Homo sapiens: one gene and its partners. The protein of the gene in region 4 interacts with the protein of the main gene of each other region in a pairwise test. Each region holds a gene or a part of one and is shown on either strand. Other genes may lie near its edges. The genes, in order: LIAT1, SPIRE1, ASCL4 and PLD1.

Region 1 (7,755 bases), on a different chromosome or scaffold from region 4:
TTCCATCCCAACGCAGACTTTCGTTGATCCGATTCGCAAGGTTCTCTATTTCGGCAAAGTCGGGGAGGCTGACGGTGGAGGAGTCAGAAGGGAGGTGCTTCTTTTCCACTTTGCTCTGTCTGTGCTCTGGTTTCGGGCCACGCTCTTTGCAAGGACTTAAGATGTCATGAAAGGAGGAAGAAAGCGGCTGGCTCTTCAGGCTCTGACTCTGATGTTTATCTGCTGAGTAGATGAGCAGGTTAGTGTTTGTGGCAATGTCTGACCTTGGCCTGCTGGGGATGGTGCCAAAATCACCCAAGATGGAAGAGGAGGATGGGGGCCCCTCCGTACCCAGGGCTCAGGCTGCCAAGCCCACCAGCCTCGTGCCCACCTGCCTGTGTGATTTTGCTGAAATCATTTCAGGGCAGGAGGAACCATTCATTGAGCACACAGTCTGAGCCAGGCCGTCTGGGTAAAGGCGATCGGCCCTATTCTTCGGGTGAGGAAACCGAAGCTCCAAAAGGTTCAGGAACTTGCCAATGTCATGAGCGAGTGGCAGAGCTGGGACCTGAGTGCAGGCTGGGCCCCCAATGCCCCATTCTTTCCACTGGGCCGTGCTGCCCTCATCCATCCTCGCCATGTGCTCACCACGGCCATTCCCAGTTCTGGGAGTCTGTGACTCTACCCTAGTCTAGACACTTTATGATGGAAGGAACGGAAAACAACAGAAAAGCTTCCTAAATTTGACTGAAAGCAGTATTATGCCAAGCCAGAAATACTTCTGCTGTATGGCTTGTACTGATTTTTTTTTTTAACATCAATAGCACTTCAGAATTATTTAACATGCACATAAAATGCTACAAATTGTGGTTCTTTCATCAGCTCGTCCTTTTATTTTAGGGGAGAGAGAAAGAAATCATCTTTTGACATTTCCCTCCCTTGCTACGCCCTGGAAACTATCTGGTGCCCCCTGCTGATGGTATGAGGCACATGTCACTGTAATTTCTACAGTGAAAAGCTACGCCAAAAGGACAATGAACTGCCAAATTTCTTTTTGCAGATACACACAGGGCTTTTTTTTTTTTTGAGACTGAGTCTCACTCTGCCACCCAGGCTGGAGCACAGTGGCACAATCTTGGCTCACTGCAACCTCCGCCTCTCAGGTTCAAGCAATTCTAGGTGCCTGCCACCATGCCCAGCTAATTTTTGTATTTTCAGTAGAGACGGGGTTTCACCATGTTGGCCAGGCTGGTCTTGAATTCCCAAAGTGCTGGGATTACAGGCGTGAGCCATGTGCCCAGCCACACAGGGCTTCTTGACCTGAACTGCAGAATTTTCTTGCCTTTGTATTACGCCTGAGAAGTACTTATCATCTTCCCATTGCTCCCTTCCCACACTGCACGGTCCATATGGGCGAGGCTGCCACTCTGCCTCCTGCTTGCCTTGGTGCCAGCTCTGCCACAGAGGGCCAGGCCCCAGAACTGGAGCTTAGAGCCCTCTCCCAGACAGCCAAAGCCACTGAGGTGGACCACACGGGCGACAGTGGCCTCACAGCACTCACGGGCACCTGCATTCTCTGTCACTGCTGTGCTCTCTCTCCTCAAAGTGGGTGCTCAGTCCCCTTGTCAAGAAATGTAGGGGTTCTACAAGAAGAGCTTGGTGAGATGTAGGGACTGGGGTTTATGGCAGGTAGGGTATGTGTGTTTGTGAAGGTGTCCCTGAGAGAGACTGCAATTCCTGCCTGCATATGACTACACACGCGAATGGATAACGTATTAACAGTCTGTGTGTGTAGACTAGGAATGTGTGTGCATGAGGGGGATCTGTGCTTTAGTTTTCTTGTTTGTTTTTTTGAGAGACAGGGTCTTGCTTGTTGCCCAGGCTGGAGTGCAATGGTGCGATCATAGCTCACTGCAGCCTGGAAGTCCTGGGTTCAAGTGATCCTCCCACCTCGGCCTCCCAAAGTGCTCGGATTACAGGTGTGAGCCACTGCGTCCCGCCCTTTAGTTTCACTGTTGGTGTTACATTGATAGAAGGTGGGGGGAGTGGTTGAGGGTGTCCCCCGCCCTTTAGTTTCACTGTGGGTGTTACACTGATATGAAGCGGGGAGTGGTTGAGGGTGTCAGGGATTATAGGAGGATGTCACAGTGACTGGTGTCATGGGGTTTGTGCAGTCCAAGGCTGCCCCTTGGTGGGTGCGAGGGGGAGCCCATGCAGCGAGGACCTTTAATACACACGTCTGTGGGTGTGGGTGTCTACCGCGCATCCACAGGCAGGCAGCCTTAACGCAAGAGGGTGGGAGGAGGGGAGGCAGGAGTCTGCCCTTCTCTGTGCATGAGAGTGAGGGCCTTTCATGTGGCATCAATGTGTTTGGGGTGGGGAAAGTGTCTTGTGAGGAGGGCCTCTGTGGGGAAGGCGCAGACGTTTAAGACTGCCAGTTTTGGCTGAGGGATTAGGAAGTTGAGAGGGTGTCTTTGTGTGGGGCTGGAAGGCTCTTAGGAATGGTGGATATCTGTAGGGGTCTCTGTGTGGGGCTAAGGGACCGCAGAGTTGGTGGATGGTCTCCACGGGTGGGGCTGGGGCATCAACGTGCTGCTGACGGGCATGTGTGGGGAGCAGGAGGACCTCGGTCCGGGACCACTGAGCTTCTGTTTCCGGTCTGAAGGGTAAATGGGGGGTGGGTCCCCAAAGAGTCTCCAGGGAACCGGAGCTGACGCAGCCGGGCTAGCTGCTCCTCTTACCGTCCCCCTTGCCAGACCCCTTGGTCTTCTTCTTCCTTTTTTTCTTCTTCACCTTCCGTTTGGCCAGCTCGGAGGCGCCGCCTGTGATGGGGGGCAGTCTAGACCCCCGCGGGCCCGCGGCGCCGCCCTCCCGCTCCTCCTCCTCGCCGTCGTTGTCCTTGTACCCCATTGTCCCCGCCCCACCGCGGCGGTCCAGCCGCCCGCTGGGCTGCAACCCAACCCGCCCCGGGGGCGCCCGAGGCCCGATGCCGACTAATCGGCGACTCTCAGCGCGGACCGCCAGGCCAGGGCCACGCGTCTCCATGGCGACCACCCCTGCTGCGCCTGCGCAGTCAGGACGCTTCCGCCCGGTGCCCCACGGACCGCGGTGTGCGCATGCGTGCTTCCGTCTTTTGGCGACCTTGGCACACAGCGGTGTGCGCATGTGTGCTTCTGTCGGGGATCTCGAGAACAGAGCGTTGTGCGCATGCGTACATCTGTCGGAGTGCTAGGTACGCAGCGGTGCGCGCATGCGTGCTTCCATCTGTTGGCGATACCGGCACAGCGATGTGCGCATGCGTGCTTCTGTCTGCGGAGACCTCCGCGCATAGAAGTGTGCGCATGCGTGCGTCTGTCGGAAACCTCCGCACACAGAGGTGTGCGCATGCGTGCTTCTGTCGGGGACCGCGGCGCACGGTGGTTCGCCCATGCTTGCTTTTGTCTGTTGGAATCTGGACAGTTGACCGCAGGAAGGGGAGGGTGGGCAGAGAGATTTTAAATCCCTGGGCTGACACTCATCTCGTCCAGTCCCGTGCCTCGATCCTCCTGCCTTGGCCTCCCATCCCCACGCCTGGCTAAGAGTTTTGATTTTTGGTTTCAGGCTGGTCTCGAACTCCTGGGCTCCATCGATCTTCCCGCCTCGGCCTCCTAGATCGCTGGGATCACAGGCATGAGCCTCCGTGCTCGGCCTCCTGTACCTTTTTAAATGCTGTGTATTCTCCCCTCAATTTTTATTGCCTGAGTTTCAGCCTCGTACATCTACCCTGGACTCTCAAAGCCAATGTGTCCAAAACAAACTTACTTCTTCATGGTTTTCCACTTTAGTGAACAAAACCGCTGGACTGGCTGGAAACCTGGTGGGCTTCCGTGTCCCCTACCCTCTCCCTTGTCCCTTACCCAGGCTGGGGCCGACTGCCGTGTCTGGCACTGGGACTTCTGGGTCCTCTCCTGAATGGTCTCTGCTTTCAAACCTTCCCCACGAACTCTTTTTCCGCACAGCTGCTAGAACAAACTTTTAAAAACAACCAAACCGTTCACTCTCTTGCTAAAAGTCTCCAGTGATGAAAAACAAAACATAAAAAGCCAAAAAGTCCTCCATTGCTTCCTCATCACAATTTACATCAAGATCTAAACTCTTGTGGGGCTCTGTGCAGGGCTGACACCCGTAGTCCCAACACTTTGGGAGGTCAAGGTGGGTGGATCGCTTGAGCCCATTCTGGGCAACGTAGTGAGACCCCATCTCTACAAAAAATTAACCAGCTGCGCTGAGGGGCACTTGTGGAGGAACTTGAGCCTGCAGTGAGCCGAGATCGCACCACTGCTGTCCAGCCTGGGTAACAAAGCAAGACTTTCTCTCTCTTTTTTTTTTTTTGGGAGACAGAGCCTTCCTCTGTTGCCCAGGCTGGAATGCAGTGGCGTGAACGTGACTCACTGCAACCTCTGCCTCTCAGGTTCAAGTGATTCTTCTGCCTCAGCCTCCCTAGTAGCTAGGACTACAGGTGCGTGCCACCACGCCTGGCTGATTTTTTATTTTTTATTTTTTGTATTTTTAGTAGAGACGGGGTGTCACCATATTGGCCAGGCTGGTCTCGAACACCTGACCTTGTGATCCGCCTACCTCGGCCTCCCAAAGTGCTGGGACTACAGGCTTGAGCCACCACGCCCGGCCTCTGTGTCTTAAAAAAAAAAATAACAAAGTGTGGCTTACAAGGCCTGGTATGATGCATCACCTGCTTTTCTTTCTAGGTTTACCCTCCACAGATTGTATTATCTGAAAATGGCTGCAGAGGCTGGGCATGGTGGCTCACGCCTGTAATCCCAGCACTTTGGGAGGCCGAGGTGGGTGGATCACTTGAGGTCAGGAGTTTGAGACCAGCCTGGCCAACATGGAGAAACCCCGTCTCTACTAAAAATACAAAAATTAGCTGGGCATGGTGGTGGGTGCATGTAATCCCAGCTATTTGAGAGGCTGAGGCAGGAGAATCACTTGAACCCAGGAGGTAGAGGTTGCAGTGAGCTGAAATTGCATCACTGCACTCCAGCCTGGGTGACAGGGCAAGGCTCCATCTCAAAATAAAATAAAATGATAAAATAAAATAAAACTGCTGTGCTCCAGCCTGGGTGACAGAGCAAGACTCCATCTCAAAATAAAATAAAATGATAAAATAAAACTGGCTGCAGTAATATCTCTTGTCCCACATACTCTTCAAGAATCTTGCCATTCCCATGGCAAGACGCAGAGTCTCATTCCGCTCTCCTTCAATTTAAGGGGTTTGTTGACTCGCTTGTAACCAATAGTATGTGGCAGAAGTGCCTCTGTGTGACTTCTCAGGCTAGGTCCTAAAGGGAATGCAGCATCCATCCATCTTCTTAGCCCATGACGTGCTTGCTGTAGAGTCCTGAGCCTCCCATTGAGAAGTCTGAGGACCCCAAGGCTGTCACACCTTGATAAATCCCCACCTAGTCCACGTGGAGAGCCTCTAAGATGTATGGAGAGAAAGATGCCTCAGCTCCTCCAGCCCCCACTTTTCCCATCCAGCTATCGTCCTGCAGCAGCAGCAGGAGAGACCCCAGGCCAGCCCCAAGCAGACAAGCCTTTCCTGAATTCCTGACCCAAAGAAGCTGTGAGAGAAAATACAATGGTTGTAGTTATTTAAGTTACGAAGGTTTGGAGTGATGTGTTATGCAACAGTAGATAACCAAATGTGTCTTTTTAAAAAGATATGGAATGGTATTTTATCTTTTATTTAATTTCAACTTTTATTTTAGATTCGGGGGGTACATGTGCAAGTTTGTTACATGAGTACACTGAGTGATGGTACATGACTCATGAGTACAATGTACATGAGTACATTGAGGTTTGGGGTATGGGTGATCCCGTCACCCAGGTGGTGAGTACAACACCCAACAGTAGTTTCTCAGTCCACATCTTCCAGCCCCTCCTCCCTCTAGTAGTCCCCATTACCCATTGAAAAATCAGCCTTTGATTTTAGCCACTCTAGTGGGTAAGAAGTTGTATTTCTCTGTGGTTTTGAATTGAATTCCCTTGGTGATTAACGAAGTCAAGAACTCTTGAAAGTGCTTTCTGGTCATTTGTGTATATATATATATATATGTATATATATATATATATTTTTTTTTTTTGAGATGGAGTCTTGCTGTGTGGTCTGGGCTTCCATGCAGTGGCACAATCTCCACTCGATGCAGCCTCTGCCTTCTGGGTTCAAGCAATTCTCCTCCCTCAGCCTCCTGAGTAGTTGGGATTACAGGCATGCACCACCACACCTGGCTAATTTTTGTATTTTTAGTAGAGACGGGGTTTCACCATATTGGCCAGGCTGCTCTCAAATTCCTGACCTCAGGTGATCCACCCGCCTCGGCCTCCCAAAGTGCTGAGTTTACAGGTGTGAGCCACTGCGCCCGGCCTGTCATTTGTATATCTTTAAGTGTCTTTTGAAGTCTTTTGGCCATTCTGTAATGTGGTTGTTTATTGTTGATTTGTTGTTTGTTGTTGATGTCTTTGCACAACTTGAATATAAGTGTTTTGTCAGCTTTATGACTGCAAAGATTTTTTTTCCAGGTCTGTAACTTATCCATTTTCTGAATGTGGTGTCTTTGGATAAGCAGAAATTTGAAATTCTGATAAATAATTTTTTTCAATTTTCAATTCATTTGATCAGTTTTTTCTTTTTGTATTGTGTCCAAGGATGCTTTGCCTGCCCCATATTGCAAAGACAGTGTGCTATGCTATCTTCTAGAAGCTTTATAGTTCTGGTTTTAGGTTAGGTTCATGATCTACTTCAAATTTATTATTATTTTTTGAGATGGAGTTTCGCTCTTGTCGCCCAGGCTGGAGTGCAGTGGCGTGATCTCAGCTCACTGCAACCTCTGCCTCCCGGATTTAAGCAATTCTCCTGCCTCAGCCCCCAAGTAGCTGGGATTACAGGCATGCACAAACATGCCAGGCTAATTTTGTATTTTTAGTAGAGGCAGGGTTTTACCACGTTGGCCAGGCTGGGCTTGAACTCCTGACCTCAAGTGATCCGCCCGCCTCGGCCTCCCAGAGTGCTGGGATTATAGGTGTGAGCCACCGCACCTGGCCTACCTCAAATTGATTTTGTGAATAAAGTCACATATAGGAGTCACATTTATTTTTTCCCAAATCGATTTCCAGTTTTTCCAGGAACTTCCATTGAAAAGACATTCCTTTTCCCATTGACTTGACTTGGTACTTTTCATTACGATTTTTAAAAATTTTTTTGGGATGGAGTTTCACTCTGTGGCCCAGGCTGGAGTGCAGTGGTACGATCTCGGCTCACTGCAACCTCCACTTCCCAGGTTCAAGTGGTTCTTCTGCCTCAGCCTCCTGAGTAGCTGGCACTACAGGTGCGTGCCACCATACCTGGCTAATTTTTTTTTTTTTTGTATTTTTAGTAGAGATGGGGCTTCACCATTTTGGCCAGGCTGGTCTCAAACTCCTGACCTCAAGTGATCCACCTGCCTCAGCCTCCCAAAGTGCTGGGATTACAGGCGTGAGTCACCACAGCTGGTCATTTCTGATTTTCTTTTCTTTTCTTTTCTTTTTTTGAGACAGGGTCTCACTGTTTTGCCCAAGCGGGTCTCAAATCTCTGGGCTCAAGTGATCCTCCTACCTTGGCCTCCCAAAGCATTGGGATTACAGGCATGAGCCACCATACCCAGCCTGACTTGGTATTTTTGTAGAAAATGAGTTAACTATGTGTTTGTCAATCTATTTCTGGACTCTGTTTTGTTCTGT
Region 2 (7,276 bases), on a different chromosome or scaffold from region 4:
ACCAGCTGCGGGGTCATCTGTCAAGGACAAGGTTAGTAAATCCAAGGCTTTAGAGAGCCAGGCCCTGCCTACTGTAGCACAAAGGCTGCTCTGAGCACCTGCTACGTGGTGGCAGAAGAGGCTTCAATATGGTCGTAGAGCTTTTTATTTCACGTAGAATTGTGAAGGTTCAAATAATGATATATTATTCTGTGTAAAAAAACCTCAAAAAACAGTAATATAATGCAGAATTATTTAAAATAGCCACATCATTAAAAAGGAAACTTGAAATTTCTCTTTGCAGAGAAGTGACGTACACACCCTGGTTGTCATAACACAGCTTCATGACAGGTGATGGGAGCACACAGGTTTCCTGAGCCCATGCCCTGGTTGTGCAGGTGTCTGTGGGTGGGCGGAGTCCACCATGGCTACCTGGCCTGGCAGGAGGATGCTCTGCTCACGGAATGAGTGAGCAAATACTCTTCTGATGGTGGGGGGAGGCCCTAGGAGGAATGCACCCCACGGGCTCAGAGTGCCTGCTGCACATGGAGAAAGGTGGCAGCACTGACTCTGCTATACAATTAGGTCACCCGAGGAGACAAACACCCACAGGTCCCCTTCATCAGATGCTGCATTTTGAGTTTGTTGTCCTTTCCCAGTTATTTCCCTCAACTGAGACCACGGCATGATCGGTGCATCCTGCACAAGGGTGGAATCAATGATTGGAAGCAAAGTGCTATCTAAGCGGTTAATTCTCAGAGAACGCAACAGTTGAGGTGTCACCGTCAGAGATACAGAGAATGAAATAATCCCAGACCCAGCAGAAAGAGGCCAACCTTTGAGGATTTCCACCTGCTGGTAAAAGCTCTCTCACACAGATAATACATAGCCCCTGCTACCCCAAACATGGCTGCTTCAAAAGGATGAGAGCTGAGCAGAGAAGCTGTTTGTATGGTAGAAAAAAGTGGTCGAAAAGGCGTCCTTGGCCATACACTGGTTATCCTAGGAACCTGAACAACAGATAAGGGAAAAAGAAAATGGCAGGGGGAAAAGAAAAGGAGAAAATAATGCTGAACACAAGTGACCTACACATAGTGATTACAGATCACAAAAGGAAAACAAAACAAAAAACACCATGAGGCTGGTACAGTCCGTGCGAACATCTGCATCCACACGTATAAATCAGTGATGAAACCACGAAGTCCTTCCTGGAGAATCTCAGCGTTCACACAGCAAGGATTTTTCTAATTTAGGGTCCTGCAAACACTCTGAGTTTCCTCAGTGGGGCTTGTTGTGATGAAGGATAGAGGCAACTCGTTACTGTGCCTGAGAAAGCATGGGGACATGTGCCAGGCAGCCACTTGCACCTGCCCCAGGAAGGTACTGCCAACACGAGGTGCCTTTAGACTGGATGGGCATTTGCCCTCGGTTATTTGACCAAATGATGAAAAAAAATGACATTTTAAACATCACAAGAAAAGGGAGGGAGATACAACAAAAATAAAAATTATCAGCCGGGCACAGTGGCTCACGCCTGTAATCTCAGCACTTTGGGAGGCCGAGGCGGGCAGATCACCTGAGGTCAGGAGTTCGAGACCAGCCTGACCAACATGGAGAAACCCCGTCTCTCCTAAGTATACAAAATTAGCCGGGTGTGGTGGCACATGCCTATAATCCCAACTACTTGGGAGGCTGAGGCAGGAGAATCGCTTCAATCCGGGAGGCGGAGGTTGTGGTGAATCGAGATTGAGCCATTGCACTCCAGCCTGCGCAACAAGAGCGGAACTCCATCTCAAAAAAAAAAAAAATTATCAACAATAAAAACATTCCTGCCATTTTCAGTTGAGGAGTTACAAATACAAAATGATTCTTTGTTTTCTAAAATGCAGCTACATTTAAAAATTAATTACACTTATAAAAACAATACTTACCAAGCTATAGGGCATTACTACAAGGTATGATTTTATGGATTTCCCAAGATAAGCTATTAGCAAGGAAGATCATTTCGTCTCTGCTGGTGCTTGGAGGCCTGCGTGGACTCTGCTCCCTGCCCTCAATCTGACCACTGTTCAGTGCTGAGCAGAGCGGCTCTCCCACTGCCTGCTCACTGAGACCTTCCTCAGTGATTGCAAGTTAGTTTATCTTGCTCTCCTTCCTGCTCCACAAAAAAACAGTGCACGGCCTGACCTCGCAACACTAAGAGCTCTGCTTTAACAGGAAACAGACACAGTCATGGGCCCTTGGGGTCAGCTGAAGGTCTCAGCATAACTTCTATTATAAGCTGAAACTACCTTGTAGCTAAGCTGATAGTTCCTTTACATTGCTAATTTTAAACTTTAAGTCTAACCTCAATAATGACATTGTATGATCACATAAAGGCCAGTTACAAGCTGAATGATAGACTGGCTTCTAGGAAAAGCTGAGTGAAGAAGAGAATACCCTAATGATTAGACTTATGAAAAAAACCACAAGTTCCCTCTTACCTATACACATGTATGTGTGTGTGTGTGTATGTATGTATATACATACATGTGTGTATGTATGTACATATGTACGTACATACATATGTGTGTATGCACGTACATATGTACGTACATACATATGTGTGGTATGTACGTACATATGTATATACATACATGCGTGTATATGTATGTACATACATATGTATATACATACATACACACACATATACACACACATACACATATGTGTGTATATATATTTTTAGAGACAGGGTCTTGCTGTGTCATCTACGCTGGGGTGGAGTGGCACATTCTTAGTTCACTGTGGCATCAAACTCCTAGGCTCAAGGGATCTTCCCTCTGCAGCATCCTGAGTAGCTGGGATTACGGGCATGCGCCACCACATCTAACTAAGTTTTTAATTAAAAATTTTGTACAGACAGGGGTTTCTTAAGTTGCCCAGGCTGGTCTCAAACTTCTGGCCTCAGGCGATTCTCCTCCTTTGGCCTCCCAAAGTGCTGGGATTACAGGTGTGAGCCACTGTGCCTGGACCCTCTTACATATTTTAAAGTTGTGATAATAGCTGTATATTTTGGTAAAAGCAATAACTTATTCACATGAAAACAAATTTTTAGATTTTTACGTTTGAATCTGTCTGGTCAGAGTTCTGTTTTCTTGTTGGTAAGTCACTGACAAGGCTATATTTAATCGAATAGCTGTGTTTTGGTGATTATTCTGGAGCTAGAAGAATCCTATCAGGAATCGCCATAAAATCATTAGTTCTTTAATTGCACTGTTTTGGCATAGAGATGAATGACCAAATATTAACATTCTAAGCTCTGTTCAAAATCCCTGTCTTCACAATAATCGCATTATCTCCCATCTGTTATTACTTTAATTGAAACTCTAATAATTCATCACAGCCTTAAAAAATGGACTTAGTATTCAATATATTCTATTATTTTTTATTCATGAATATTTGAAAACACATTAGATATTTGACTGTGGGTAGAATATTAATTACAGCTGTGCATCTTGCCTACAAATATTTCAGAAGCCAAGTGGCGCTACAAAAGAGTCTTTGGAGACCTCTGTTGGCTGGGAGATCTACTAATTCCTCCTGGCAAACCCTTGTGTGCTGCCCACTGTCCTGAGAAATGAGCACCCACTATAAGAACCTGCAAGTCTCTGGAAAACAGCAAAAACTATAAACCAGTTCAACCAAAATAACACCACTGGCCCCAAATATCACAAAACATACTAGAAAACAATGTACAGTAGTTATTAATGGATCAAAATTCTCCCTCGCTTGTACTTCTGCCTCAATAAGATCACCTACTGTAGTCATTTTGCTAAGAGTTTTTTTGGTCAATTTTTAACAATTTTTAAATGGATTAATAGCCTTTGAAAGAAAGAAAGCATTTCTTTAATAATAATCCATACTTTCAACCACTGATAAATTTTCTTGAAAAAAAAAAAGAGCTCAAAATGAACAAACACTGGTCAAGTTTCGTTTAGGTTATGGATAGAGTTTGGAGAAGGTGTCACTCTGCTGCCCAGGCTAGAGTGCAATGGTGTAGTCATAGCTCACTGCAGCCTTAACCTCCTGGGCACAAATGATCCTCTCACACCTCATCCTCTTAAGCAGCTGGGGCCACAGGTGTGCACTACCACACCTGGCTAATTATTATTATTTTTTTTTGCAGAGACGGGATCTCACAATGTTGCTCAGGCTGGTCTTGAACTCCTGGAGTCAAGTAATCCTCCCACCTTGGCCTCCCAAAGTGTTAGGATTATAGGCACGAGCCACCACGCCTGGCTGTTTGTTTTCTTTAGCTATTAAGTAAGTTATTCAAAATTCATTCTAACTTTTGCAAGTTTTTTTCTCCTTATCATCTTCATAAGAAAGCTAATGATTCTATGTCTTCTAGCTGGTCCCTAAGTTACTACAAAGTCTTTCCTGTACTTACAAGAGAGCGGGAACTCTGCCTGGAAGGCGGCAGGAACTGCCTCACGTTAGTAGGCGTTTCCTTTTCAATGGAATGTCGTCTCTGGGGTGGCTGCCGTCTCTCTGGCTGGGGTGTTGATGATATGGGCAGGAATTTTGGAGGCTCTAAAGATTGAACCAAATGAAATAAAACTTACTGTGAATTTTCTAACACAAAACCTTTTGACATTTGTGACAAACACTGTAATTCAAAGATGAATTATTTATTTCATTGGAGAGATATTTTAAGATGGTAATGGTAATCCTTAGGAGTAGACTCTGAGGGCTGTTACAGAAGAATCTTTGCAAAGTAAACTTGCTACAGAAATAGCAAGAAAAAAGGAAAAATGTTAGGTGTAGCCAGAAAGATTCCCAAATCATACCAAAATTCTCAATGTACCCTCTTTTTACATTCTCCTTTTTAAAGATAAAATAAGGAAAATCCTTCTTTCTACATGTTTACCAAGACATTTTGTCCTTAGGTTTAAATTAAACTGTATTTAAACTGCAAAAAGTAAGCTTCAGCTTTGATGTTAATATTGTACCATTGTCCTTCTCTGCCTAGTAATATTTTAAGACTGTTTAAAAGGAGACTGCTTTAGTGTCTGAACGGTTCTGGATTCCCATTTTGAAAACAAAAGGAGAACATTAGAAATAAATTATGGTGCCAGAGTTTTATTTAGTGCTTCCTCCTACTCTATCTACAGAGTAGAGCTGCTTCAATGTAGTGGGTGTGGAAAGTGAGAGTCAACACAAAGTTACATATGATCCATCTATTTAGACTGTCCCACCATGAGAAACCACTAAAGGAAAACACAGATATAATTTCCACAGTCAAGAAAAGATACAGAAATCCATTATGTGATTCAATTGGGTCCCTATAATATCCAATTGTGGATAGTCAGTACCTACTGTTTTTGATATAATCTGTGTAAATAATAAAACTACTTAAAGAATTTTTGTGTATGAGAAATCAAGCCAATATATAATTTTTAATACTTCATAATGTTCTTATAAATGAAAAGGATTATTAAAAGCCTTTAGAAATCCCTTAACTTTAGATATCTGTGTTCAGAATCTATCTCCTAAAGAGTTATAAAGGTGTTTTCACTATCTACACAGGTTTTTGGAGATGGGTGTGTGTGGGTGGTAGGTGGAATGATAATAAATATGGTTGTGTTGGGCTTCTGGTTTAAATTTAGCCAAGGAGGTAATCTATCTAAAACAAAACAAAACAGAACGCTACACACACAACTGATTTATAATATTTCCCATGACTATTGTTCGTAAACACACATGTGCCTGCTCTGTCATAAGACCCCGAGGCCTGGTATGATGCCACTCTTGGAAAATAAGTATTTCATCTCCCGATCAGTGAAATGCCTGAGTTAGTTCTTTCTACCCTAGATGATCACAGGGCGCTCTGGGATCTCTGCTCTAGGTCAAGTGTGTTTTGTAGTAAGACATCCGACTACAGCTCTTAGCACCACAACTACTCACTCTTCCTTGTGGACACGGCCTCCAGGACTGGCTCTTCAGGGAAAGAGGGAGACACGCTGCTGCTGCTGGTCGACTTGTGCAGCGTTTCTTCCTGAGCAAAGTACAGGTGGAGAAATCGACTTCTTAGACATTTGTGCTCTAGTGCTACGTAATAACATTTTATTATTAAACAGTTATTTTAACATGAGGCACCAAAGTATGTCAAAGGTTCAAGGCAAGCAAAAGACAAACTAGAAGGGGTTTCAAACAAGACAGGTCTGGGTTTGTGCCTTGGCTCTGCCCTGATGAGAGTGATGTGAAACTGAGCATGCTTCTTTCTGTTTTTTGGAGACAGGGTCTCACTCTGTTGCTCTGGTAGCAGTGCAGTGGTGTGATCTGGGCCCACTGCAGCGTCTACCTTCTGGGCCCAAGTGATCCTCCCACCTCAGACTCCAGTAGCCAGGATCACAGGTGTGCACTTCCACACCCAGCTAATTTTTAAATTTTTTGTAGAGACAGGGTCTTCCTATGTTGCCTAGCTGGCCTTGAGCTCAAGCGATCCTCCCAAAGTGCTGGGGTAACAGGTGTGAGCCGCTGCACCTGGCCTGAGCATGTTTCTTATCTTAGTTTCATCATTGTGAAAGAGGGTATTTAATATCACTTTTTCCATAGGGTTATTGGAAAGATGAAATGAGGTAATGCATTCAAAATGCTTAACACATTACCTGGCACACAATAAAACAGTGGTTAATATTATTAGGGAAATATTTAATACATTTATACAAGTAATACATTGTCAGCCTCATGGGAGCAGATGCTGGGTCTGTCTTGCTCACTGATGTATGTCCAGTACCAAACCCATCACTTAGTAAGTAATGAGTGTTTGTTGAATGAATGGATGAAAAAATAAACATTTCATGAAATGTCATATGAGTCTAGAAAAATGTCTACATTGTGGGCCAGGTACGGTGGCTCGCACCTATAATCCCAGCACTTTGGGAGGCCAAGACGGGCAGATCACGAGGTCAGGAGTTTGAGATCAGCCTGGCCAGCATGGTGAAACCTCACCTCTACTAAAAATATAAAAATGAGCCAGGCGTGGTGGCACGCGCCTGTAGTCCCAGCTACTTGGGAGGCAGAGGCAGGAGAATTGCTTGACCCGGGGAGGCAGCGGTTGTAGTGAGCTGAGATCGCATCACTGCACTCCAGCCTGGGTGACAGAGTGATACTCCGTCTCAGAAAAAAAAAAGAAAAAGAAAAAGAAAAATGTCTACATCGTGCCAAATAAAATTAAAATTCTTATTACCAGTGAGAAGAGATCCTAACTTGTTTTAGACTAAACAAAAATAAAGTATAATATTTATTCCTG
Region 3 (7,004 bases), on a different chromosome or scaffold from region 4:
AACACTAAACTGGTCAAGGTATGTAACCTCTTTGAGCTTCATATTTTTTTTAATCACAAAATATTTGTCATACCCACCCCACAAATTTATGACAATTAAATAGGACAAAATGTAAAAAGCCACAACAAAATTCCTAGCACATAAAAGATGTCCACTGAAGATATAGCCTGCCTTAGTTGCTACAACTGTAAAAGGGGGTAATAAAATCTAAGTGAAATCTACCTGGAGGATGCACTTCCACTGTTAGTTCTCTTTGTCCATTTCCATTTCCCCTCCTTCTTCCCCCACAAACCAAAGCTGCCTCCATGGAAAGGATAATTCGGCATATTAGAAAACAATCTTAGGGAAGTTGATCTTCATACATCAGCAGGCATTTAACTTATCTACTGAACTCAAAATTGTTTCTTAGAAAAAAAATGACCCAAATTCAATATTTTAAAAAGGCTTTTAACATGGCCAAAGTCACTACATCATTTCCATATACTGTACCTGGAAGCCCTAATGGTGATAAAAATATTTGAGAATGTACCAACTTCAATCCATCCGTCTTGTCCCATATCTTTCCCCCATCTGGCTCAACCCGCAAAAAGGACTTCCAAGTAGATTTCTTTTTTATTTTTAAAGTCACAGTGCCACTTCAGTTTATCCAAAACTTAGATGGAGAGCTACACGTTGGGGGGCGGGGGGTATGCAGAGAAAAGGAAAATGAAGAAAACAGTGGACAAAACAATTGAGAGGAAAAACAAGTTTTCATACAAATCTGGGCTCTCTTCCAAAGAGATCATTAATTCTAAGATATTTTACTATCTGCTCAATGCTACAAAGCTTCCACGTGGCCACTGGATGAAACAGTGTGTACCAAGCCACGGATTCCCTGGCACCATCATTCACACAGTCAACAACAGCACATGCTGGCAAATTCGTTCTCAAGTACCAGCTTACAGTCTCCTTCACCCAAAGCAGGAGGTCAACAATTACTTTCCATTACATTTTGAATACAATTCCCGAAGGAAGGAATGCAAGAAAATGTTCCTCTCATTTTTAAGGACTGTTTTTGGCTGTTTGGGGTTGTTTCTGTTTTGGTGGCGGTAAAGTTCTTCTTTGGTTAAGGTTTAATGTTTATGTATACCATTTACCCACACCACGGAAGGTGGGAAATTCCAGTTGTTCTCGCCCTTTGAGTTTTTAGAATAATCGTATTTACAATGAGGTGCTCAGAATCTGAAACAGTTTGCATTTTAGAAGTATAGGAAAAGAGTCTCCTTAATAAGCACCTATAAGTTGCAGGCACGTAACCAATAAGGGCAGGGGAGAAATTCCCAAATGTCAAAACAACTCCCCCATCCCCCAAACCCCAGCACCCATTTCTTTTTCTTAAGATTTAGGCCTGGAGAAGATGCCAGATTAAGAATGCAAACCACCTTCGAAGAGGACCTTAGGTTGAGCGCCCGGCTGCGCGCTGTGCGGCGGGCGCGGGGGTCCTGGCCAGTTCGGGCGCTCGCTAGCTGCCCCCCTCCTCGGGCTCGCTGCTGGGCGAAGGCGCCGAAGAGGCCTTGGACTCCCCGTCGCTGTTGCATTCCGCCCTGCGCTGGGGGACGGCGCCGGCCGCGCCCTCGAGCCCCCAGGCCTGGCGCTCCAGCAGCTCCTGCAGGTGCTTGATGTAGTCGATGGCAGCGCGGAGCGTCTCCACTTTGCTGAGGCGCTTGTCTGCCAGCTCCCGGGGCAGGTGGTCTCGGAGGCGCGCATAGCCCTCGTTCACGCAGCGCACCCGCTGCCGCTCGCGCTCGTTGCGCTTGCGGAGGAAGGCGGGCTCGAAGGCGCTGTCCAGCGGCACGGGCAAGTACTGCCATCCCCGTGCGCAGCCGCTGCGCGCCCACTCCCAGCACGCGGCGTCCAGACGCAGGGCGACCCTGAGGGGGTCCCTCCGCGGGAGTCCGGGCAGGGTCCCCGGAACGCCCAGGGGCGCGGTGCGCAGCGAGTATGGCAAGGCCAGCCGTTCCGCCGGTTTACGCGTCTCCATCATTTGCCGGAAAGCACACAAATCACTCAAGAGGTCAATCTCTCAATAGAAGAAGACGAAACAGAATCTTAGAAGCAGAGGTGCTGGTGCAGACTGCCTGGCTCAGTGGGTCTGTCTTTGCAGAAGTTTCTGGGTCCAGAAGTTAGGTTCCTGGACAGGCTTCAGGGAAACGGTGCATGATTCCTGAAGTTCATTGCACTCCTCGATCTTTTTATGATTTAGGCAGAGGTGGTAGGCAAAGACGTAGGATCTCCTAATCCACACTTCAAACCCCGTCTTCCCCACTGATCTTCTTTCAGAAGATAACAAAGGGGGTTCCTCTGCCTGGTCCCCCAGCCTGGAAAGGTGAGCTCACACCAGAGTCATCTTCCAAAGCCACCAAAAGCTTTTCAATGCCTGTAATCCACCACTCTAGGTCTTCAAGAGATGAGTCGTTCGCCAAGAGCCTAGCAATCTTCAGGATTTGAGAAGAGCTCCTCCCAGGAACCTGCAGATCTGGCGGCGGAGGGAAAGTGGACCAGAGGCTTTCTCCTTGAAAATCACTTGACTGTCCTTTGTGGTTTCCCGCGACCAGGTCTAATGGAAGGAGCTTTTAGAGTGTTTGCAAACTTAAACTTGCTCTTTCATTTCTGGGGTCTTAGCCTCATCAAAGGAAAAACTGCTCTCTTGCGGTTATAAAATGTGTCAAGTCAAGGAAGACCCGGGGCGAGGCTTGAGGTTTTTCTTCTTCCAAACCGAATCTTTTAAAAACTCAATGAGGCATGTTTGAAGGGTATAGGAAAAATACAGACTGTAGCAAAGAATATAAGGGTCTGCATATTATGTTCCAACATATGTTGTTTTATGGTTGTTGAGGGTGTTTTATGGAGATGCGACTTTTTAAAAGCACATCAAAAGACTGAACAATAACAAACGCGCTTAGCCGGTTATTTCTCACAGTGCTTACTGTAAACACAGCTTAAATACTGCTTCCCAGCCTCCTCTTCTAATCTCACCCAGGATATAAGGACATCATCTTTCCATAGCGCAAAGAGTGTTTTTCCATTGGATTCTTCTTCTTTAAAAAATGTCATTTATTTTCTCTCTTGGGGGCAGGAAAGCAACATTTGAAAGGTGGAGACTCCAAGTTCCAAGGAGAAAGGATGATGTCTTTGAAGACTTGTCTTTTTAAGACACAACCCCTCCAAAATGAATAATTAATCCATCCGTGTTGGTAAACCTTTGAAGATTAAAGTGTCATTAAAAATCCAACTGTACTGGTTAACGTCAAAGAATATGTTATCACACTGAAAATCAGATTTCCTCTTCTGCAAACCAGTACATTAAAGGTGTCTTCTACTTTAAAAGTCCTACTTAAAAACAAGAGAAGCAAAAACCCCCTACATTTATGATGAGAGCTTTTGCCTATTCCTCAGCAGACAAGGTGCTGCCCTAACATGTTTTTCTTTTTAGTTTGGCAAGTCCTGTTCTTCCCTGTTTGTTCTAAATGATCCGCCTGAAGCAACTCAAAAAACAAGGCAAATAAAATAGAAATAATTATTCCTTTCGGGTATAAGTTAGTCACATTTTTAAAGGTGTAGCTTGGCTGGGTGCAGTGGCTCAAGGTTGTATTCCCAGCACTTTGGGAGGCCAAGGCGGGTGGATTGCTTGAGGCCAAGAGTTCAAGACCAACCTGGCCAACATAGCAAGACCCCCATCTTTTAAAAAGAAGAAAGAAAAATTAAAAGTTGTAGCTCCTGATGAGGTTTGTACTGGCAAATAGCCTAATATATCATCACAATTTCTCAGTAGAATTGAGAAAGCCCTTTCTATTAGGAGAAAAGTCCACCACTCAGGCAGGTAGGCTGTTATACCACAAGGTGCTTTTTGGCCATGTCAAAGATTTTAACTTTTAAGAGTGACAGGAAGATAATGAAATATTTTAAGCAGGGAGGTGACATTTGAAGATTTGTGTTTCAAAAAAGATAACTGTGTCTGCAGATTGAGGACTAGATTGGAAGAGAGCAAAAGGAAGAACAGTTGAGATGCCATTTCTCCTTCTCAGATTGGCAAAAGTTTAAAAGATTGCTAAGATTCAGGGGAGGCAAGGATTTGAGGAAAGGGTGGGAGCATAAATTGCTTCAAGAAACTATTAAAATTATTATTATTATTATTATTATTATTATTATTATTATTTTGAGACAGGTCTCACTGTCACCCAGGCTGGGGTGCAGTGATGCGATCTCGGCTCACTGCAACCTCCGCCTCCCAGGCTCAAGGGATCCTCCTATCTCAGCCTCCTGAGTAGCTAGGACTACAGGCTTGTGCCTCCACATCCCAGCTAAACAAACTGTTAAAATTAATAGTGCACATCACATCCTTTGATTCAGATATCTGTGCCGTTTTGTCCTACCAAAATAAATGTAGCAATACCTATTTATGTGTACAATAATCTTTATTGCAACATTTGTAGCAATTTAAAAAAACGAAGACTCCAGGCAAGGTGGCTTATGCCTGTAATCCCAGCACTTTGGGAGGCCAAAGTGGGTGGATCACTTGAGGTCAGGAGTTCGAGACCAGCCTAGCCAACGTGGCGAAACCCTGTCTCTACTAAAAATACAAAAAATTAGTCAGGCGTTGTAGCAGGTGCCTGTAATCCCAGCTACTTGGGAGGCTGAGACAGGAGAATCACTTGAATCCTGGAGGCGGAGGTTGTACTGAGCCAAGATCACGCCACTGCACTCCAGCCTGGGTGACAGAGCAAGACCCAGTCTCAAAAAAAAAAAAAAAAAGGCGAGGCTGGGCACAGTAGCTCACGCCTGTAATCTCAGCACTTTGGGAAGCCGAGGTGGGAGGATCATGAGGCCAGGAGTTCAAGACCTGCCTGACCAGCATGATGAAACCCCATCTCTACTAAAAATCAAAAAAATTAGCTGGGCATGGTGGCACATGCCTGTAGTCCCAGCTACTTGGGAGGCTGAGGCAGGAGAATTGCTTCAACCTGGCAGGCAGAGGTTGAAGTGAGCTGAGATAGCCTGGGCGACAGAGCGAGACTCTGTCTCAAAAAATAAATAAATAGATAAAGAAGAAGAAGAAAAAGGGAACAGCCTGAACAGCCTGAATGTCCATCAATAGGAAAAGAGTTAAAAATCTTAGAATATTATGCTATTATTAAAAATAATGAGTAAAATCTGTACGTAAGAACTTGCAGACATATCCACAATGTCTTAAGTGAAAAAAGCAAATTGCAGAGTAACATATGCAGCAGGAACATAAAAACAATTCTACATGATGTGTATGTCCTTTATATGTGTTTCTGTGAGCATGGAGAATGAAATAGAAAGACACATACTAAATGGTTTTTTGCATTGGTTGCCTAAAAAGAAAGGGTGGCATTGGGGAGGAAGGGGGGATGTTCATTTTTCTTTATAAATCTTTCTACTGTTTAACTTGTTAATACCAACACTATTACTTTCTTATTTTTATAACCCAGTGAAACTTAATAAGATAAAATGTGTAGAAAGTTCAAATGACACCCCCTGATCTGGCCCAAACCAACAGATTTACCATTAGAAATTAGAACTCTTAGACCAGGTTTTCTGGCTCCTTGTAAATTCTGTCTCTGAGGACGAAGTATCTACAAGACTTTCTCTCTCTCTCTCTCTCTCTCACTGCTAATACCACAATCAAAATTGGTCAAGGCCGGGCGCGGTGGCTCATGCCTGTAATCCTAGTACTTTGGGAGGCCAAGGCAGGAGGATCACCTGAGGTCAGGAGTTCAAGACCAGCCTGACCAACATGGAGAAACCCCGTTTCTACTAAAAATACAAAATTAGCTGGGCGTGGTGGTACATGCCTGTAATCCCAGCTACTTGGGAGGCTGAGGCAGGAGGAGAATCACTTGAACCCAGGAGGCGGAGGTTGTGGTGAGCTGAGATCATGCCATTGCACTCCAGCCTGGGCGACAAGAGCAAAACTCCGTCAAAAAAAAAAAAAAAAAAAAACTGGTCAAATCCTGATCCTACAGTGGTCTTTTTATAGGATCCAAGTAATATAATGACCTAACTGCATGGTCACAAAGAATGCTGACAGAGCCTTTCCTAAAGAACAAAAGCATTGAAAATAAGTGGCTTTTCCAGTAGGAATAGGACTGTTTTACTCACATGATGTGCAGGGTATGGGGTGGGGGTTACCTTCTTTACATAAGAGATCAAAAGAAGAAGTTTTGACTCCTGATTACTCTCCAGTCAGTTTTGACCCAGATAAACATTCTCTCCAACCTAAAGCTGTCCTAAGGCTGGCTAGATCACGTAACACATATGCTAACCTGCCAAGAGTAACTGGGCTGGGTTTGTGTAGTCCTATTTGGGTCTGCTCATGAAAGGGGGCAGATGGGCAGGTATATTTTAATCCTTTCCTTCTAGCTTTTGTCTTTTCTCCCCTGTTTAAGGCTACCTTCTCCTACCGCAAGTTTTACAAGGCCTCCTCTTGTCTATATAACACCTTGGTGTGAATTATGAAGAGGCACCAAACTCAAGGCTTGGAGAATGAATGGCTGACTCTAAAATTCATCTGGAAGAACTTTTGGGCAAGGATTTCCCAAATTTGGAAAAGAAGACAAAAGAACACAACGTGCACTTTTAATATCCATGAGGAAGAAATTACCACTTGAGATTCTAACTGAGGCTGTGTTAAATAGAAAGAAATTGGGCCAGGTGCAGTGGCTCATACCTGTAATTCCAACACTTTGGGAAGCTTATACAGGCAGATCACTTGAGCCCAGGAGTTTAAGACCAGCCTGAGCAACATGGGGAGACCCCATCAATACAAAAAAATACAAAAAATAGTCAGGCATGATGGCATGCATCTGAGGTCGCAACAACTCAGGAGGCTAAGGGGGGTGGATTGATTGAGCCCTGGAGATCGAGGCTGCAGTGAGCTGTGATCATGCCACAGCACTCCAGCCTGGGCAACAGAGCAACACCCTGTCTCCATTTAAAAGATT
Region 4 (7,927 bases):
GCTTAGTGATAAAACTAAAGCCTGCAACACAACCATTATCATTAAAATGTTATTAAAACCCTGTAAGAAAGATGAAGAGTCTTGTGGATGGATGGTGGTGACGGTAGCACAACGATGTGAATGTATTTAATGCCACTACATGTACACTTAAAAATGGCTACAATGGTAAATTTTATGTTGTACATATTTTACCACAACAAAAGTGAAATTATAAGAGAAAAAAAATTTTTTAAAAAAACATCCTGTAAGAGAACATTTATACACTGTCGGTTGGAACGTAAATTAGTTCAGTCACTGTGGAAAGCAGTTGCAGATTTCTCAAAGAACTCAAAACGGAACTACCATTCAACCCAGCAGCCCCATTACTGGGTATATATCCAAAAGAAAATAAGTTGTTCTACCAAAAACACACACAAATTCATATGTTCACCACAGCACTAGTCACAATAGCAAAGACATGGAGTCAGCCTAGATGCCCATCAACTATGGACCGGATAAGAGAAAATGTGGTCCATATGCATCATAGAATACCATGCAGCCATAAAAAGTAACACAATCGTGTCCTTTGTAGAAACATGGATGCGGATGGAGGTCATTATCCTAAGCAAATTAATGCAGGAACAGAAAATCAAACATTGCATGTTTTCACTAATAAGTGGAAGGTAAACATTGGGTACTTATGGATATAGAGACGGCAACAATAGACACTGGGAACTACTAGACGTGGGAGGGAGGAAGGAGAGCAAAAGTTAAAAAATTATCAGGTACTATGCTCACCACCTGGGTGACGGGACCAGTTGTACCCCCAACCTCAGCTGCATGCTGTATGTCCATGTAACAAACCTGCACATGTACCCCCTGTATCTAAAATAAAATTTCAAATTATTAAAAAAAAAAAATAGGGTCGGGTGCAGTGGCTCACGCCTGTAATCCCAGCACTTTGGGAGGCCGAGGCGGGCGGATCACGAGGTCAGGAAATCGAGACCATCCTGGCTAACACGGTGAAACCCCGTCTCTACTAAAAATACAAAAAATCAACCGGGCGTGGCAGCAGGCGCCTGTTTTCCCAGCTACTCAGGAGGCTGAGGCAGGAGAATGGCGTGAACCCGGGAGGTGGAGCTTGCAGTGAGCCGAGATCGCGCCACTGCACTCCAGCCTGGGCGACAGAGCGAGACTCCGTCTCAAAAAATAATAATAATAATAATAATGACAGTCCTACTTTTCCTTTGTAACAAAAATAAAAGTTACCTATAAGAGTTAAAGGTAAATAAAATTTGTAATTTTAATTAAGAAACACTAAGTAAACATACAACTTCCAAGAAGCCGGGTTCCCCACTACCTGGTTATAAGTAAGTCTACAAACCTAAATGAGCATTGTACAGCGCTTACTATAGTTCATAATTATTCTGTCATCAGGGACAAACATTGTAAAGACACTTTTTCCTCAAAGCCTTAGCATTCAATTTTTTTTTTTTTTTTTTTTTTTTTTTGAGACAGATTCTTGCCCTGTCGCCCAGGCTGGCGTGCAATGGCTCCATCTCGGCTCACTGCAACCTCCGCCTCCCGGGTTCAAGCGATTCTCCTGCCTCAGCCTCCCGAGTGGCTGGGATTACAGGCGTGTGCCACCACGCCTGGCTAATTTTTGTATTTTTAGTAGAGGCGGGGTTTCACCATGTTGGCCAGGCTGGTCTCAAACTCCTGACCTCAGGTGATCTGCCCGCCTCAGCCTCCCAAAGTGCTGGGATTACAGGCGTGAGTCACCGCGCCCAGGCAGCACTCCAACTTTTTATATGGATTGTTAACTGTACTGGTTCTTGAGAAGCCAGACTGAGCGCTTATACAATTAGTCCAAAGATCCCCAAACAACATTTAAAGGCTGTCTACAAATTCAAGCTAAAAGACTGTGTACAAATTCATTTGTGTGTCACAAAACATTTAATACTGAAAGAGATTCTTATTCAAATAGGCAGTGTGTAAATGTGGGGTCTGTTAACAGTTCAAATTGCAGATTCCTTTCCTTCTTTAAGTTTTCATTGCACCACCACGAACTAAACCATTTAACATACCTCAGAGGTCTCTGGGTACCTAGTCTCTCAGAGGCCTTTGGAGGCCCACGAAGGCTTATCTTAACTAAAATTGGCAGGGCTGGCTGATAAAGTTAACGGAACTCCCCATTTTGGAGGCAGACTTAGTAATGGTCAAACGAAGAAACTGTTGTGGTCTGTTCTTAAAAAGCTACTAGTATTTAGTGCTTCACAGAGGAAGTAAAGAAAGCAATAATCCGAGATGAGGAGGAGCAAATACAGGCGTGGCGGTAGTTCAGGACTGAGTCTACAAGGGCGGTTCTCAAGGGCGTCACAAAATCCTATGGAAGGCTTGGAGGACGGCACTCCTGGATCTGAGCCCTACGTCCCAAACACCTTCAATCGTATTGTGAGGAAGAAGACCTTTTACACACTCCCTGCTGCTGGCCCCCGGCCCCCTCGCCCCACCTCCGAGTGGTCACATCACACGGCGGGAGCCGCGGTCAGCAGCTGTGATCACACCCCCAGGACCGTGCTCTGCGGGCTGGGCTCGAAGCCTTGGGACGCGGCACTTCCTGGTTGGTACGGGATGCCGGTCCCATCGCCCCCACCAGCCCAGTCATGCCACCGCGCACCCGAACCAAGGGCGCCCGGATGACCTGGGGACACCACACACACTGCACCCGAAGCCCTGTGGCGGCGAGGCGGTGCATCCTGCAGAGGACGCCTGGGCTTCAGCCTGAGCCTGCGCGGCTCTGCGCTCCAGGCAGCCGCCCGCGCGGCAAAAGTGCGTGCCAGAGTTGTCAGCTTTCACCCTGCAGGAATTCCACCCGAAGGCGTGCGAGGGAGGCCCTTGGGGATCGCTAGGGAGTCCGCCGCCGACTCACTCGCTGAAATCCCGTCCAAGTTGGGCGGGGAGCGGCCAGCTGCCCAGGTTGGGCGGAGGAGGGACGGAGGGCGAGGGCAGTGGAAACCCGGCTCCCACGGGCGCCCGGTGATCCGGGTCTCGGCGCGGCTCCTACCTGCAGGGCGAAGGGGCCGCTAGCACCTGCGCGTTGGCGGCGGACTCTCAGGGCTCGGGTGCCTCTGGCACAGCTGGAGCTCAGCGGGAGGGAGGGAGAGAGGGCGGGCCGGAGGGGGCTCTGCGCTGCGCGGCCGGCAGGAACTCTCCGCCCGGATTCGCCCCGGATTCGCAGGGGTGGAGCGAGGCGGTGCCAGGTCCCGGGGCGTCGCGGTGCCGGCTGGAGGCCCCAGCGGGGCAGGTCTCGCGACTGGGCCTCTGATCGCCCGCGTTCCTTGTTCTCTTTTCCCAAAGTTTCATAACTCGACCGCATCACCCTAGGGAATGCTCGCTATTAGGACCATTATCAGGTCCTCTCGAGCCGCCAAGGACCAGCCACCTTTCCCGGAGCTTTGCCTATGATATCTATTCTTCGACTACTGCGGATAGTAGCCACAACTGGTCCAACTTATAAGTAAGGAATCAGCAAATCAAACGGCTAAATAACTTGCCTGAGGTGACATAATTAAGAGACTGGAGCTTTGCTGGAGTCTTTATAAGCCTTCTTGCACCTCCTTAGGGAAGTGTTATCGCCAATTTACAGGTAAGGAAATGAAGGCTCAGAACCAGCCCGAGGTCACACAGCTTAGATGGAGGGGGACGGGAATTTGTGTCCCGATGTCTCTAAAACTGGTTATAATTCAGAAATCTTAGCATAAAATAATAAATTGGGAGCAAAACAGGGAAAAGACCCATTCCACCTATGGAACCGTTCAAACACGGCAATTTTGCTGTTTTCAGTCCACTTAGAATAAAGTCTTAAGAAAAAGAGAACCAGTTGTCATGTGGCTTGAATAGCAGCCCTTTGGGAATGTAATTTTGAATATAGGCCAGTTCCAACCTCATTACACGATATTGCATCCCGCCAAAGCCAGGGGAAGCAATGGCCTCCCCATGCACCAAACTGCTAATAACGTCAGCCACTTTAAAGCATTTAGTGGATATTACACAACTGCGACTGACCAAGTTACATAATGTCTTACTGCACACATGGCATTGCATGAAATGAAAAATATAATATACCAGTCCAAATTAGGGGAGGGGGGCCAAATTATAGTCTGGAACTCAGTTTTCCTGTAACCTACAGTTGCTCAGCCCTCCTTAGACCACATTTTTGTCTCTTGAGCACATCTTTTCCTAATGATAGAAGAGTCACACAGCCCTCACTCTTTCCTTGTTGACATAAATGATTGATGTCTTTTGAATCCTATGATACTGACAGATTTTTACAATTAAACACATGACTCTCTGAGCAGAGTATTGCCTAAGAGGAGTTTAGTAAGTTTCAGACAAGCATGTTACTGGAAGGCAGAATACCCTCTCTCCTCCCCTCTTTCTCAAGCTTTATTAGTCACAGATGGTCTGATAAGTCTTGTGCACACACGTAACTGCATTCTTACAAGCTTGTCTTTAGAAATTATAATGCTTTTGGTTGAGAAGCAGCAGTCTATAAAATTGCATCCCAAATTCTTAAGTGTCACTATGAAAACATTTGGCACTTGCCTCCAACAATAGGTCTTTCTACTAAATCTAATTAGAAATAAAATTATCAAGGCCAAGCGCAGTGGCTCACACCTGTAATCCCAACACTTTGGGAGGCCGAAGCGCGTTGATTACCTGAGGTCAGGAGCTCAAGACCAGTCTGGGCCACATGGCGAAACCCCGGCTCTACTAAAAATACAAAAATTAGCCGGAGGTGGAGGCAGGTTCCTGTAATCGAAGCTATTCGGGAGGCTGAGGCAGGAGGATTATTTGAACCTGGGAGGAGGAGGTTGCTGTGAGTTGAGATTGCACCACTGCATTCCAGCCTGGTGACACAGCAAGACTCTGTCTCAAAAAAAAAAAAGAAAGAAAGAAAGAAAGAAAATTATCTAAGTGCCCTTACAATAACTGAATTTCTGCCTCCCTGGGATAGAGGAATAAAATAGGAAATGCCATATGTTGTTTAGAGATGAACTGAAGCTTATGGACTCCCAAACATGAATTTTAGAAGTAGTATGATTTTGTATGTAATTATTTTATTTTCCTGAGAGATTTTGTGATTTTTCTTTCCAACTCTTTCATATCTTCAAAGATGTCAAGAAACAGTGACTAAGTAATCATGCTATACATTCATCTCAATATGCACTTGACATTTTTGTCAAAGTGGTATTTGAAATCCTTTTAATTGTTCTATTTTCTTCTGAGAATAAAAACATATATGTTCATTTTTATAATTTTAACATCTATATTTTAGAAAAAAAATTTTACATCTATGTTTTAGAGACCACAGAAAAACATTTTTAATTAAAATCACCTATAACTCCCACACACACACTCTCTATTAGCATTTAGTATATTTCCTTATTTTTTCTATGCCCAGAGGTTTGTTATAAAATTAACACCATGCTTTACAGAGTTTAGAATCTTCCTTATCTCACTAAGTATTTATAAATTGACTATTTTTTACTGTTATTAAACTTTCTTTAAGATATCATTTCTGTGGTTGAAGAATATTACAATCATTTATCAAATGTTTTAGGATATTTTCAGACTTTATTGCAGTTTACAAATCATGCTAGAATGAACACTACGTTGCATCATCTTTGTCAAGATCTCTACATCCTTAGGATAGATTCCTAAAAGTAGAAATACTGGATCAGCATTTAGAAACATTTTTAAGGTGCTGTGTGATGCTGCAAAAATACCCTCCAGTATTAAATATTGCCTTGCTTATAACCTGAAAATGTCACGAATCAAAATCATATCTTGTTTTAATCAACTTTTTTATAATCAGTAATGCTGAACACGATTTTTTCATGTTATTATTTGTACCATTTACTGAAAATGATCTATTCATGTCCATTACCTGTTCTTTTTCTATGGTAAATTAGTTTCTTGTTAATTTGCAATAATGCTTTCAACAGAAACAGAACTATTTTATCAAAGTGACATACAAATGGTGCTCCCCCAGATTTTCCCTTGTGGTACATTTGATACAAGCACTGCCATCCAGATCATCTAGTCATTTTGGGATACCAACATCTATCATCTTTTCTGACAGTTCCATTTTCTTATAGAAAATTACCTCTCCCCAAATAGGCATAGGCCTGGCAAGACAGCAATTTCAAGCAGTAACCTCAAAAGTGAAGGTCAGATCCTTCTTCCATATTCCCACCACCATTCCATTTACCCTATAGGCCAGGTGGACTGAATCTCAGGGGATGAGGGAGCCGGTGATCTTTGAGGTTGAGCTTATTGAACAGAGACAGAAGCGGCCCATCAGCAGCTTTACCCTGACCAGTAAAACCTAGGAAACTTTTACTTCCTAGGTTTTGTGGGTCTTTTTTTTAAATCTTTTTGTTGCTTCCTTAGTTCCTGCTGTTCTTCCACTTTGTCTTGATTCTGTGAGGCCCCGGTGCCCTTTTCCTTCAGAGAGCAAGTCTGCATTCATTATTTGTCCCCAATAATCCTCACTGACATAATCTGTATGACTTCTGTGCCCTTCAGTCCACCTGACAGTCTGTGGATTAGCAACTACTCATTTCATTCATTCATTCGCAAACATCTAATTGCTAATGTTAATTAACCAATGCACATGTTTCTCTAGAGACATGGAGTATAGAGCAAGATGTTGTATCCCCAGTTACCTGATGACATAAATCACTTCAACCACCATAACAGTGACTCACTGAAAGATCAGAACAGTGTCATTAGTGAGGCTCAAATTTTTTGTAAAAAAATGACAGTGGTTAACACCAAAAATCTCAAGAGAGAATGAGGAACACAGCAACACAGCAGATATTGCCAAGATGTGCAGAGCATTGTGTTTCTGTATCCTCATTTCAGCTTCCTGTGGCCCATTTGTATGTTTCATCATTTTTTCCAGCAACGGTCGACTTGTGAGCTGCCTAGCATGTGACTATAAAGGTCCCACACTGACGCCTACAGCTCCCCCTGCAATACCAAAGATAAGTCTTCTCAGTCACCCATAGCCAGTCCCTGTGAAGCTTTTTCATGTCCAACAAGCCCAAATGGATCCCACTCCCCCTATCTAATGACTTTTTTGAAATATTTCTGTATTTTCAATGTTTACATAACCTTTTTTTTTATACTTTAAGTTCTAGGGTACATGTGCACAACATGCAGTTTTGTTACATATGCATACATGTGCCGTGTTGGTGTGCTGCACCCATTAACTCATCATTTACATAAGGTATTTCTCCTAATGCTATCCCTCCCCCAGCCCCCCACCCCACGACAAGCTTCGGTGTGTGATATTCCCTGCCCTGGGTCCAAGTGTTCTCATTGTTCAGTTCCCACCTATGAGTGAGAACATGCGGTGTTTGGTTTTCTATCCTTGCGATAGTTTGCTCAGAATGATGGTTTCCAGCTTCATCCATGTCACTACAAAGGACATGAACTCATCCTTTTTTATGGCTGCATAGTATTCCATGATGTATATGTGCCACATTTTCTTAATCCAGTTTACCATTGATGGACATTTGGGTTGGTTCCAAGTCTTTGCTATTGTGAATAGTGCCGCAATAAACATACGTGTGCTTGTGTCTTTATAGTAGCATGATTTATAATCCTTTGGGTATATATCCAGTAATGGGATAATGTTTACATAACTTTTATAATTTTATTTGTTTTCATGGATTTGCACATTTATGCAAACTAGCATGATTAGTAAATAAGCAAACATGCAAAAAGCCATTTAAAAATGAATATTTGTTTGGAATAACACAATTACATGCCAATTGGTTGCTGCAATTATATTAAAGAACTATAAGCGCAATTGAATTCAGTTTCCAAAAAAAAAAAAAAAAATCCATAAACTCCACAAGAAATCTTTGCTCAC

The links.
Region 1: the proteins of PLD1 (region 4) and LIAT1 interact in binary tests that used the Homo sapiens proteins (3 or more experiments, as listed by UniProt).
Region 2: the proteins of PLD1 (region 4) and SPIRE1 interact in binary tests that used the Homo sapiens proteins (3 or more experiments, as listed by UniProt).
Region 3: the proteins of PLD1 (region 4) and ASCL4 interact in binary tests that used the Homo sapiens proteins (3 or more experiments, as listed by UniProt).

Annotation. Positions count from the first base shown.
Region 1 is NC_000017.11:405,612-413,366, reverse strand, and holds the start of LIAT1 (protein LIAT1), read right to left. Parts: upstream 3,043-7,755; 5' UTR 3,025-3,042; coding exon 2,721-3,024; intron 239-2,720; exon of another isoform or gene 220-238; coding exon 1-219. UniProt on the Homo sapiens protein: Participates in nucleolar liquid-liquid phase separation (LLPS) through its N-terminal intrinsically disordered region (IDR). May be involved in ATE1-mediated N-terminal arginylation.
Region 2 is NC_000018.10:12,458,940-12,466,215, forward strand, and holds part of SPIRE1 (protein spire homolog 1), read right to left. Parts: intron 6,020-7,276; coding exon 5,929-6,019; intron 4,555-5,928; coding exon 4,412-4,554; intron 990-4,411; coding exon of another isoform or gene 816-989; intron 1-815.
Region 3 is NC_000012.12:107,770,235-107,777,238, reverse strand, and holds ASCL4 (achaete-scute homolog 4), read right to left. Parts: upstream 2,536-7,004; 5' UTR 2,021-2,535; coding exon 1,502-2,020; 3' UTR 595-1,501; downstream 1-594. UniProt on the Homo sapiens protein: Could be a transcriptional regulator involved in skin development.
Region 4 is NC_000003.12:171,807,353-171,815,279, forward strand, and holds the start of PLD1 (phospholipase D1), read right to left. Parts: upstream 3,132-7,927; 5' UTR 3,047-3,131; intron 1-3,046. UniProt on the Homo sapiens protein: Function as phospholipase selective for phosphatidylcholine. Implicated as a critical step in numerous cellular pathways, including signal transduction, membrane trafficking, and the regulation of mitosis.